Homo sapiens: one gene and its partners. The protein of the gene in region 1 purifies or fractionates together with the protein of each later gene. This does not show direct contact. Each region holds a gene or a part of one and is shown in the gene's direction. Other genes may lie near its edges. The genes, in order: LMCD1, PPP4R2 and LGALS9.

Region 1 (3,650 bases):
AGAACTACTCAAATATTATTATTATTATTATTTGAGACAAGGTCTCACTCTGTCACCTAGGCTGGAATGCAGTGGCACGATCATAGCTCACTGCAGCCTCAAACTCAAACTCCTGGGCTCCAGCAGTCCTCCCACCTCAGTCTTCTGAGTAGCTAGGACTACAGATGAGCACCATCACAACTGGCTAATTTTTCAATTTTTTTGTAGAGATGGGGTCTTGCTATGTTGCCCAGGCTGGTCTCAAACTCCTGGCCTCAAATGATCCTCCTACCTCCAGTTCCCAACGTGCTAGAATTAAAGGCATAAGGCACCACTTCTAGGCAAAAATATTATTTATTAAATATTATTTAAAACTCTTCATGCACGGGTAAAAAGATCCATTCAAAGTGCAAGGTAAACAAACAGGTTTTAATGTAAACAAATATGAAAGGTTCACTGATGTGCTTTCAGATTTCACACTGCAACTAACTTGAGAAAGTATCCTGTGTCAAATTTTACTGTAGTATCAAAGAAGAATATCCACAGTTGCCTGGAAGGTCCTTTAAAATGCATCGTCCTCCTTTTTCCAACTTTATGTCAGTGTGAGTTCAGATTTTCTTCATGTATTTCAACCAAAACAACAGCATGCAAAAGATGGGCTGCAGAAGCAGTTATGGGAATCCAGCAATCTTCTGCAAGTCATTGAAGAGATTTGCAGATATATAAAACAATGTCTTAAAATTTTCTTCTACTTTTTTTGTTTTGAAACATATAGTTATTTTAGTAACAAGATAGGTATGTTAATGTATTACAGGTTTAGTATTGTCATTTTTAAATGAATTAAAAAAATTTAAATTGTTCTCAGTTTTAATTTCTCTTATGGTAAATATCAATAGCTATTACCCACATGAACAAAAACTCTGTAGGGGTCTTGATAATTTTTAAGAGTATAAAGGGTACTGAGACCAAACAATTTGGGAATCACTGTGCTAAATAAATAACTTTATTTAGTCCTCGTGAATAGCCTGTTAGGTAGGCAATATTATTGTGTCGCTTTGCAGATGACAAAACTGAGGCACGAAGAGGTATAGTGACTTGCCCAAGGTCACCCAGGAAGTAGAAAGGCTGGAGCTGGAATTCGAACCCATGTCACTGTGCTCTCCTGACTTCCTTGTCTCCTATGGTCCTTCCCCATCCTTCCAGGTCTGCGAGCTCTGCAAGGGAGCGGCCCCTCCTGACAGCCCCGTGGTCTACTCGGACAGGGCAGGCTACAACAAGCAGTGGCACCCCACCTGCTTTGTGTGTGCCAAGTGCTCCGAGCCGCTGGTGGACCTCATCTACTTCTGGAAGGATGGTGCACCCTGGTGCGGCCGCCATTACTGCGAGAGTCTGCGGCCCCGGTGCTCCGGCTGCGATGAGGTGGGAGATAGCCGCGAGATGGGTTAGGGGGCTTGAGGGACACTGCTGAGGGTAAAAGCCCAGAGGCCAAGAGGAGCATGGCTTTGTGGATGATGTGTTCTACAGATTGGGAAACTGAAGTCAGGCCTCACTGCATGCTCTCAACCTTCATTTTCTCATCTGCAAAATGAGGCAGACAACCATGGGATTGTTGGGAGGGGTCAGACACAGTGCCGGTGAATCTTGTCCTTGGCATAATGCCTAGCACTTAGTAAGTACTCAGAACATAGCAGGATGAACCAGGAGGCATTGCCCACGTTCAAACCTGTATCTGCATCTCTTATTATTATTATCATGTGGTTACCTAACTCCGGAGCCTCAGCTGAGTCTCAGTTTTACTACTTATAAAATAGGGATGAGACCAGCGCCCATCCCATAGAGTGGCTATGAGGATAGATGAGATAATGCATGAAAATGCTTGCCACAGGGCCTGACCTAGGAACTTATAAATGGTAGCTGCTGTTAGTCTTACGATAATATACTATAATATGAGACTTAACATTAATATGACACAATACAATACAATATGATAGAGATGCTATGAAAGAGATTCAAGTCTCTGATACTGGTTTGATGAAAGTAACTCTAAGGTGTATTAATAATGGCAATACTAATTATGATCATAGTATGTACTATTTGCATGCCTTTGGTTGCAGGCAATATACTAACTTCATCTTTGGCATGTATGAAGGTTAGAAATGTCTTCTTTATATTGAACCAACATCTATTTTCTACCACCTTCTACGAATTGGTCACCATATGAAGTTAAGACCCTGTAGTCCTCTTACCTAATAACTCTGTTATTAAGTGATATTAAGAAGGAAAAGGACTGTCACAGGCCTGCCCTGGAGCCTCATTTTTGAAGTGACAACAGTATATGCACAATAACAATTCTCTATCATTTATTAAGGGCTTACGGTGGGTCAGTAATTTGCTACATACTTTACGTACAACATGCTATTTATATCACAACAATCCTTTAGGGAGAGATAAGCATGATTTTTTCTCATTTCACGTTTAAGAAAAGTGCAGCTCTGAAAGGTCAATGCTAATTAGATAGCCCTGACTTTGTGTCAGTCAACATTCTAAGCCTTTCATATGTAGTTGGTCATTTGGCAATCATAGAACCTTGTGGGATGGAAAGTATTTATATCCCCATTTTACAGATGTGGAAGCTGAGGCACAGGGGGATTAAGTAATTTGCCCAAAGTCACAAAGCTGGTAGATGTCTTAAGTGAAAACTCATACCCAGTTCTTGTTTGACTCCAATACTAGAAGGCCCATTAAACATTATGCTCCTCTGCACTTCCTGAGCCTCAGGGGATCCTTACAATATGTCTATTCCAAGTGTCACTTCATTCCAAGCCCAAGTGACCCTCTGTATTCTTGCTCTTGATGATTGGCCATTGGCAGTTTATCTATCCTTAAGCTTTCTTCACCAGGGTGTGTAATCCCACCTTGGAACTAAACTTTAGATTTGACCCAAAGAGTATCACAGATACCTAGATAAGTAAAACCTGCCTGTAGTGGAGGATTTTTTTTATTCCGTCTGAGAAGCTAAGATGCAACCACAACCTTCACCAAATATTATCCTTACTGCCTCAAATTTATGCCAGATTTTTCCACTAAGGCTTTAAAAGGTCAAAACAAGAATAGGATGGGATGAACCACCACCCTATAACTTGTCCTAGATATACCGTCTCTACCTAGGGACAGAAACTGAGTCATGCATTTCTCCTGCTCCCCTCCCCAGATAATATTCGCTGAGGACTACCAGCGTGTGGAAGATCTGGCCTGGCACCGAAAGCACTTTGTCTGTGAGGGTTGTGAGCAGCTGCTGAGCGGCCGGGCGTACATCGTCACCAAGGGTCAGCTTCTGTGCCCAACTTGCAGCAAGTCCAAACGCTCCTGAAGGGCTGCCCACCCACAGCCAGAATCCACAGGATCCCACCGAGAAGGAGAGCCAGGTGTGCCGAGACCATCCTAAGGGTCCGATGTGACAGCAAGCAAGTGAAATAAACAATGATTTGCTTTTCAGTGAGAATATATATATGAGATATATATAGATATATATTCTAGGTTGGGTGGTGGTAGATCCTTGAGGGTCAGTAGTTTCAAAACCAAAAATATTCTAAGAAGTCTTAGGATGGAGTTCCTTTTCTTTCTGTTGTTGTTTCCCAGCTACAACCAACTAAAGACACAAATGGCGTTCT
Region 2 (3,650 bases), about 64 Mb from region 1:
TATTGCTATTACGTAACTTTCCCTTTTGTTTTTTTTTTTTGAGACAGAGTCTCACTCTGTTGCCCAGGCTGGAGTGCAGTGGTGCGATCACAGCTCACCGCAACCTCTGCCTCTTGGGTTCAAGTGATTCTTGTGCCTCAGCCTCCTGAGTAGCTGGGGTTACTGGCACGTGCCACCATTGCCTGGCTAATTTTTGTGTTTTTAGTAGAGACGGGGTTTCGCTGTGTTGAACAGGCTGTTCTCGAACTCCTGGCCTCAAGTGATCCTCCCCCTGCCTTTGCCTCCAAAGGTGCTGGGATTACGGGCATAGTCACTGCCCCGGCTGACTTTCCCTTTTAACTGTCAATCTTAGTTTTACAGTAGGTATATATCTCATGCCTACAACCAGTCCTTATGTCATTGTCATTGTATTCTCTCTGTCTCTCGTCAGTTTGGTTGTCTGAATGAAGCTTATTCTTTAATAGATTATTGAAAAGCGGCTAATTGAAACAATATTTCTGGAGTTTTTTTTTGTTTTGTTTTTTTTTGAGACAGAGTCTTGCTCTGTTGCCCAGGCTGGAGTGCAGTGGTGCGATCTTGACTCACTACAACCTCCACCTCCTGGGTTCAAGCGATTTTTCTGCCACAGCCTCCTGAGTATCTGGGATTACAGGTGCATGCCACCACGCCCGGCTACTTTTTTGTATTTTCAGTTGAGACGGGGTTTCTCTGTGATGGCTGGGCTGGTCTCGAACTCCTGACCTCAGGTGATCTGCCTGTCTTGGCCTCCCAAAGTGCTGGGATTACAGGCGTGAGCCACTGTGCCTGGCCTAACTTTTGTATTTTTAGTAGAGATGGGGTTTCATCGTGTTGGCCAGGTTGGTCTCAATTTCCTGACTTCAAGTGATCTGCCTGTCTCGGCCTCCCAAAGTGTTGGGATTACAGGCATGAGCCACTGCGCCTGGCCTGGAGTTCTTATGTGTATGTCTTGTATGTTGTCTGTGCCTTTTATTCTTTTTTTTTTTTTGCCCCCCTTTTTATTTCCCCTTTTTGTTGAGCATGGGGTCTCGCTATATTGCCCAGGCAGGTCTCAAACTCCTGGGCTCAGGCTATCCTCCCGCCTGTGCCTCCCTAAGAGCTGGAATTATAGGCATGAGCCACCGTGCCTGGCATGTGCCCTTTAATCTTGAAGGTCACTTTGGCTGGAAGTAAAATCTTTGGTTCACATTTTCTATCCTTGAGTGTCTTAAGTTTGTTAATTCTATTGTTTCCCCCCAGTAAAACTGTTAAAATCTATTTATTTTTGAGACAGAGTCTTGCTCTTTTGCCCCGGTTGGAGTGCAGTGATGCAATCTTGGTTCACTGTAAACTCTGTCTTCCCACCTCATCCTTCCCGGTAGCTGGGACTACAGGTATATGCCACCACACCTGGCTAATTTTTGTGTTTTCTGTAGAGATGGGGTTTCACCATGTTTTTAGGCTGGTCTCCTGAGCTTGAACTCCCGAGCTTAAGTGATCTGCCCACTTTGTTGGCCTCTTAAAGTGCAGGGATTACAGAGGTGTCACCATGCCTGGCCAGCTGTTAACATCTGATGATAATTTTTTTTACCTTATAAACTGCCCAATCTTTTTGCCTACCTTCCTAAAAGATTTTTTTCTTTAAAATACAGTGTGGGGTGTGTGTGTGTGTGTGTGTGTGTGTTTGTTTGTTTGTTTGTGTGTGTGTGTTTTGAGTCGGAGTCATGTGTGTGTGTTTGTGTGTTTTGAGTCGGAGTCGTGTGTGTGTGTGTGTGTGTGTGTGTGTGTGTGTGTGTGTGTGTGTTTTGAGTCGGAGTCTTGCTCTGTTGCCCAAGCTGGAGTGCAGTGGCGCCATCTCCGCTAACCGCAATCTCCGCCTCCCAGTAGCTGGCATTACAGGTGCCCACCACTATGCCTGGCTAATTTTTGTATGTTTAGTAGAGACGGGGTTTCACCATATTGGCCAGGCTGGTCTCAAACTCTTGACCTCGTGATCTCCCCGCCTTCGCCTCCCAAAGTGTCAGGATTACAGGTGTGAGCCACTGCGCCCGGCCAAAATACAGTGGTTTTTATAGACTAGATCTTTAAAAGCATTTTGAAAATCAATGTTGGATATTTTGGAGTCATTGTACTCAGGTATATGGTGTGGTCTTTTTTTTTTTTTTTATCCACTTATCTACACACTGGTGGTGTAGTCTTTCAATATGAATTTTTAAATTTTTAAAAAATATTAAATATTTCAAGAAAGTGAATTGTTGTCTTTGGTTTTTTTGTTGGGGAGGGGAGGGAGACTATATTGCTGCATCTTTGCATATCTTCAGTACTTATCATTTTGTCTTGAATTCTTCTTTTGAGTCCTTTTTTAAAAAGCAGTGTTACGGGCCGGGTGCGGTGGCTCACGCCTGTAATCCCAGCAGTTTGGGAGGCTGAGGCCGGCGGATCACCTGAGGTCGGGAGTTCAAGACCAGCCTGACCAACATGGAGAAACCCCATCTCTACTAAAAATACAAAATTTGCTGGGTGCGGTGCATGCTTGTAATCCCAGCTACTCGGGAGAATCACCTGATCCCGGGAGGCAGAGGTTACAGTGAGCCGAGCTCACGTCGTTGCACTCCAGTCTGGGCAACAAGAGTGAAACTCTGTCTGCAAAAAAAAAAAAATCAGTGTTATTGAGGTATAATTGACATACAATACACTGTATTTATTCGAAATGTACAGGTTGCTAAGTTTTCATATCTACACTCAGGAAACCATCACAACAATCAAGATTGTGAACATGTTCATTCATTACTCCCAGAAGTTTGCTCATGCCCCATTGTAATCTTCCCTCCCTGTGTGTGCTGCCTTCCCTCCAAGCAACTTTTTGTCAATGTAGATTAGTTTGTGAGTTCTAGAATTTTATGTAAATGGAACCATACAGTATGTATTCTTTGGCTTCTTCTATTCAACATAGTTTGTATTTCTTTTTATTTCTGAGTAGATGCATCGTATGAATATGCCACAATTTTTTTTTTTTTTTTTTTTTTTTTTTGAGATGGAGTGTCGCCCTGTTGCCCAGGCTGGAATACAGTGGTATGATCTCGGCTCACTGCAACCTCTGCCTCCAGGTTCAAGCTATTCTTCCGTCTCAGCCTCCCTGGTAGCTGGGGCCACAGGCGCGCGCCACCATGCCTGGCTAGTTTTTGTATTTTTAGTAGAGACGGGGTTTTACCACATGGGCCAGGCTGACTCCTGACCTCGTAATCCACCTGCCTCGGCCTCCCAAAGTGCTGGGATTACAGGCGTGAGCCACCACACTTGGCCCAGAGTAGCTTTTCTAACTACATGGAGCACTCTCGTTGGTTTTGTGAAGTGTTTTAAGAACACGGCAGTTTGCATTCTGAAATTCCAGGCTGTGTTCTCCACTTCTGCTTTTTTTTGAACCTTGTCTTCATTTCTCTTGACTCTTTCTCCTCATTGTGGGGCTTACCTCTAGATTGGAGCACTGTTGGGTCACTTTCAAGAGCTCAAGTGAGCAAGACCTGCTTCGTCTTTTCGAACTCAGAGCAGTCTATTCACTCATTGCTAGAGTTGGCAAAATCCATCTCAGTTTCAGCTGCTGTTCTCAAATTGGTCTGCAGTGATTTCCAATGAGTACCTGTTGGCTATTTTAT
Region 3 (3,650 bases), on another chromosome or scaffold:
TCTACTGGGTGGGGCAGGATCCAGGACAAGGAGGTGAGCAGCCCTTCCTCCGGCCACTCAAGTAGTGGGGACTGGGAGGAGGGGCGCTTTGTCTACGCAGTCTTCTTATGGCTCATCACCGTACAGACAGGGCACCTGCCTCCTGCCACGCTGACTTCAGGACTGGTCGAGCCCCAGGGAACATTTGCAGGGCAGCCCAACTTTGGCCCTGGCCCTGGCGCTGGCCCTGGCTCTGGGGAGGATAGAAAGTGTGCTGGATACAGTCAGACAGAACTGGCTGCCACTTTGGATTTGATCCCTTCCACCTTGGCAAGCTTGGGCAAGTTGCTTAATCTTTCTGAGCCTCGTTGCCTCACTAGGGACACAGGAGCTGAGGCTGCTTCCCTTGTTGGAAAGCACTGAAGCCCAGGAATCGACCCACAATAGGCCTTCAACAAATACCACTTCTCACCTTATGGGTGAAATATGGCACTGGAAGTAATGCTCTTCGCTGTGGGAGCTACAGAAAGCAATGAGGTCTCTATCAAACCCAGTCTCCTCTCTCTCGAGAGGAACCAGTGGGGATACCCTACCCCCCAACCCCAAAGCCCTGTACACCTGGGGGTAAAAATCTGGGTGCCACGGGCTCAGGAAGGCTTGCTTGGGAGCAAGAGGGAGGTGGGTGTGTCCGGGGAGGCATTTCTGAGCACAAGAGCCTCCCTGGAGTTTTGCCACCATCTCCTCCCATTCTGTGGTGCCCGCGATAACCACCATTCTGACTCTCCTCACCCCTCCAGCCTCCCGGCGTGTGGCCTGCCAACCCGGCTCCCATTGTAAGTCTCTTGCTTTCTTTTTGGATCGTCCTCATTTTGGCTTTTCTGGGCTCATGGAGGAGGCAGGGCCAGGCATTGGGCCTCTCCCATTGGGAGTGGGGAGGGCACAGACCAGACCCTTGACCATCTGCCCGGCCTGGTGAGGTTGGGGGTTGGATGTGGGGGTTGGATGAAACAACCTGAGTTGCCACCCCGTGGGCAGCCACGGAAGACCATGCCCCACATTCACTTCTGTCACCTGCAAAGGGAGGCTAGGCTGAGAGACGTTTCCCCGAGAGGAAAGATGGGCCAGAGCCACCAGCGTCCCCATCTGTCTTCTCCAGGGTTCTAACCTTTGCCCCTCGCTCATCCCCTTGAGAGAAGAGACACCTGGGCCCACCCTCTGTGGGGTCTGTGGGGCCATTGGGCTTGTTACGCCCCCTGGAGGGTGCCTGCCGTGTGGCGCCCTCTGGTGGGAGCTGGTGGTTTTCACACGTGAGAGCCTGGGTGAGACCTGGTTTCTTTCTTCCAGACCCAGACAGTCATCCACACAGTGCAGAGCGCCCCTGGACAGATGTTCTCTGTAAGTCTACAAGTTCTGGTCAGTTCACAGCTGCACAGTGTCCTCCTTCACCAAAAACTAAACTCCCTAGAGCCCTAGAGTCGGGAAGAAAGCGGTTTAGCAAGGAGGATGGGGACACTAGGGGCTGAGTGCTTGGCTCAGGTGACATGTGGCTAAAGCTGTCCTTGGGACAGCAGAGATTCTGGAAGAAGCAGGGTTTATCCAGTGGTGGAAGAGACAAGTCCCCTAGAGACCGGGAGGGAAACTGGTCCATCTGTCACCAAGTGGGGAGTACAGTGGCCCCAGCACCCGGATGTGAGGTTCCTGGCCCTGCATCCTGGGTCCCCAGGATGTCACTATTGATCACAGGCTTAAGCTCTTCTCCTGATGGTGCAAATGAGGCAGGGGGGCTTAGAATTAGTGGGGCTGCCTGCGGAGGGGTTGAGGGGCAGGTGACCGTGGTGTGGTCTGGGAACACGGCAGGAAGTTCCAGGAAGGCTAACATGAAAAGGGAGGTAGACGGGCGAGTCCAAGGGCCAAAGGCTCACGAGGTCAGCCTCACAGTGGAGTCCTCTCTAGAACGCGTGGGTGCGCCTGGGTGAGTGCTCGCGCACCCATGTGCTCTCCCATTGAATTTCCTGGTTTCTTTTCAACAGACTCCCGCCATCCCACCTATGATGTACCCCCACCCCGCCTATGTAAGTGGTTTCTCAGGGAGGGCAGAGGTTCTGTTTGTGGTGGGCAGGCTGGGGGTGAAGGGCCGCTGTGGGGGGATCCACTGGCCTTGAAAAATTAAAAGCAGTCATTTGTTAAGCTGAAGGGCTTCAAAGCATCCCAGCGAATTAGAAGGCTGTGGAGAGGAGCTTTCAACCTTAAAACTGTCGTGTCAATATGAGCACATTGCATGTCCCTCCCTTTTCACCCCACGAAACGAGTCTTTTTGTGTTTGGCCAAAGTTCCTTTCATGACACTAATCTAAGCCCATTAATTTGAGGAGCACTGGAAAGTTTTCCTTTGGCTTTTATGGAACCAAGTAAAGATATCATGGGCTTCTTCTCAGCTGACAGCCCAAATTCATGGGAACTGGTACAATCTTCCCCTTCCGCGTGGTGGCTGACCTGTCCCCCTTCTTCCGACAGCCGATGCCTTTCATCACCACCATTCTGGGAGGGCTGTACCCATCCAAGTCCATCCTCCTGTCAGGCACTGTCCTGCCCAGTGCTCAGAGGTAAGCCAAGGGCTCCAGTGACCTCTGGGAAGAGAGAGCCCTTCAAGGTCAGTCCAGCCATTCCCCTGGCTTCAGGAAGGCTACTGATGATGGGGAGGAAATGGGACTCAGAATTCGGTGGATAAAGGTTCAGGTGGGCTGCCCACCCCAGGTTCCACATCAACCTGTGCTCTGGGAACCACATCGCCTTCCACCTGAACCCCCGTTTTGATGAGAATGCTGTGGTCCGCAACACCCAGATCGACAACTCCTGGGGGTCTGAGGAGCGAAGTCTGCCCCGAAAAATGCCCTTCGTCCGTGGCCAGAGCTTCTCAGTAAGGCACCGCAGTCTGGAGCTTGGAGAGGCTCCCATGGGTGCACAGGGGGAGGGGGTAAAGGAGGTTTGAGGTACCTTGAACAGTATGGGGGCTGATTCCTCTGGGATGAAGGCCCAAAAGAAGAGAAGGTGGCCAACAAATTATTATTATTATTACTGTCCCGCATGAAGGAAGTGCTGGGATCTGCTTTTTCAGATGAGGAAACAAACTCACAAGTGCAGGTTACTTGCTTGTGGTCACACAGTCAGTAAGTGTCAAATCAGACCCAAGAAGGAGGTGTTATTCATTTCTTCATTTACTCAACAACCATTTTCTTGTCGCCTGCTTTGCGCAGGAAGCACCCCACATGCTGGGGGCACAGTCATGAAGCACACAGACAGGGTCCTGCCTCCAGGGAGTTTATAATTTAGGTGGGGAAAGAACAAGGAAAGTAAAGCATGGACAGATTGTCACAGATAACGACAGTGCCACGCACAAAGCAAAACAGAGCGATGAGATAGAGCGAGCCTGGGAGGGGCAGCTAGGGCCAACGTGCAGAGGCACGGGTGTGGCCTGTCCAGGAACAGCAGGCAGGCGTGCTCCACCCTGACTACATATTCAAATCACCCAGAGAGCTTACAAAGGAAATATCAGTGCTGGGACCCCAGCCCAGGCCAATGAGGCAGTCAGCTGGGCATTCGTATTTTAAAAATATGCCTTAAGTGATTATACTCTGCAGTCAGAGTTGAAAATGACTGATGTAGGGCTTTGCA

Evidence for each region.
Region 2: the proteins of LMCD1 (region 1) and PPP4R2 purify together in Homo sapiens (co-immunoprecipitation; one large-scale study listed by IntAct). This does not show direct contact.
Region 3: the proteins of LMCD1 (region 1) and LGALS9 purify together in Homo sapiens (co-immunoprecipitation; one large-scale study listed by IntAct). This does not show direct contact.

What each region holds. Positions count from the first base shown.
Region 1 is NC_000003.12:8,564,250-8,567,899, forward strand, and holds part of LMCD1 (LIM and cysteine-rich domains protein 1), read left to right. Parts: intron 1-1,182; coding exon 1,183-1,398; intron 1,399-3,190; coding exon 3,191-3,349; 3' UTR 3,350-3,650. UniProt on the Homo sapiens protein: Transcriptional cofactor that restricts GATA6 function by inhibiting DNA-binding, resulting in repression of GATA6 transcriptional activation of downstream target genes. Represses GATA6-mediated trans activation of lung- and cardiac tissue-specific promoters.
Region 2 is NC_000003.12:73,003,190-73,006,839, forward strand, and holds part of PPP4R2 (serine/threonine-protein phosphatase 4 regulatory subunit 2), read left to right. Parts: intron 1-3,650. UniProt on the Homo sapiens protein: Regulatory subunit of serine/threonine-protein phosphatase 4 (PP4). May regulate the activity of PPP4C at centrosomal microtubule organizing centers.
Region 3 is NC_000017.11:27,644,538-27,648,187, forward strand, and holds part of LGALS9 (galectin-9), read left to right. Parts: intron 1-776; coding exon 777-812; intron 813-1,323; coding exon 1,324-1,374; intron 1,375-2,009; coding exon 2,010-2,051; intron 2,052-2,492; coding exon 2,493-2,581; intron 2,582-2,732; coding exon 2,733-2,895; intron 2,896-3,650. UniProt on the Homo sapiens protein: Binds galactosides. Has high affinity for the Forssman pentasaccharide. Ligand for HAVCR2/TIM3. Binding to HAVCR2 induces T-helper type 1 lymphocyte (Th1) death.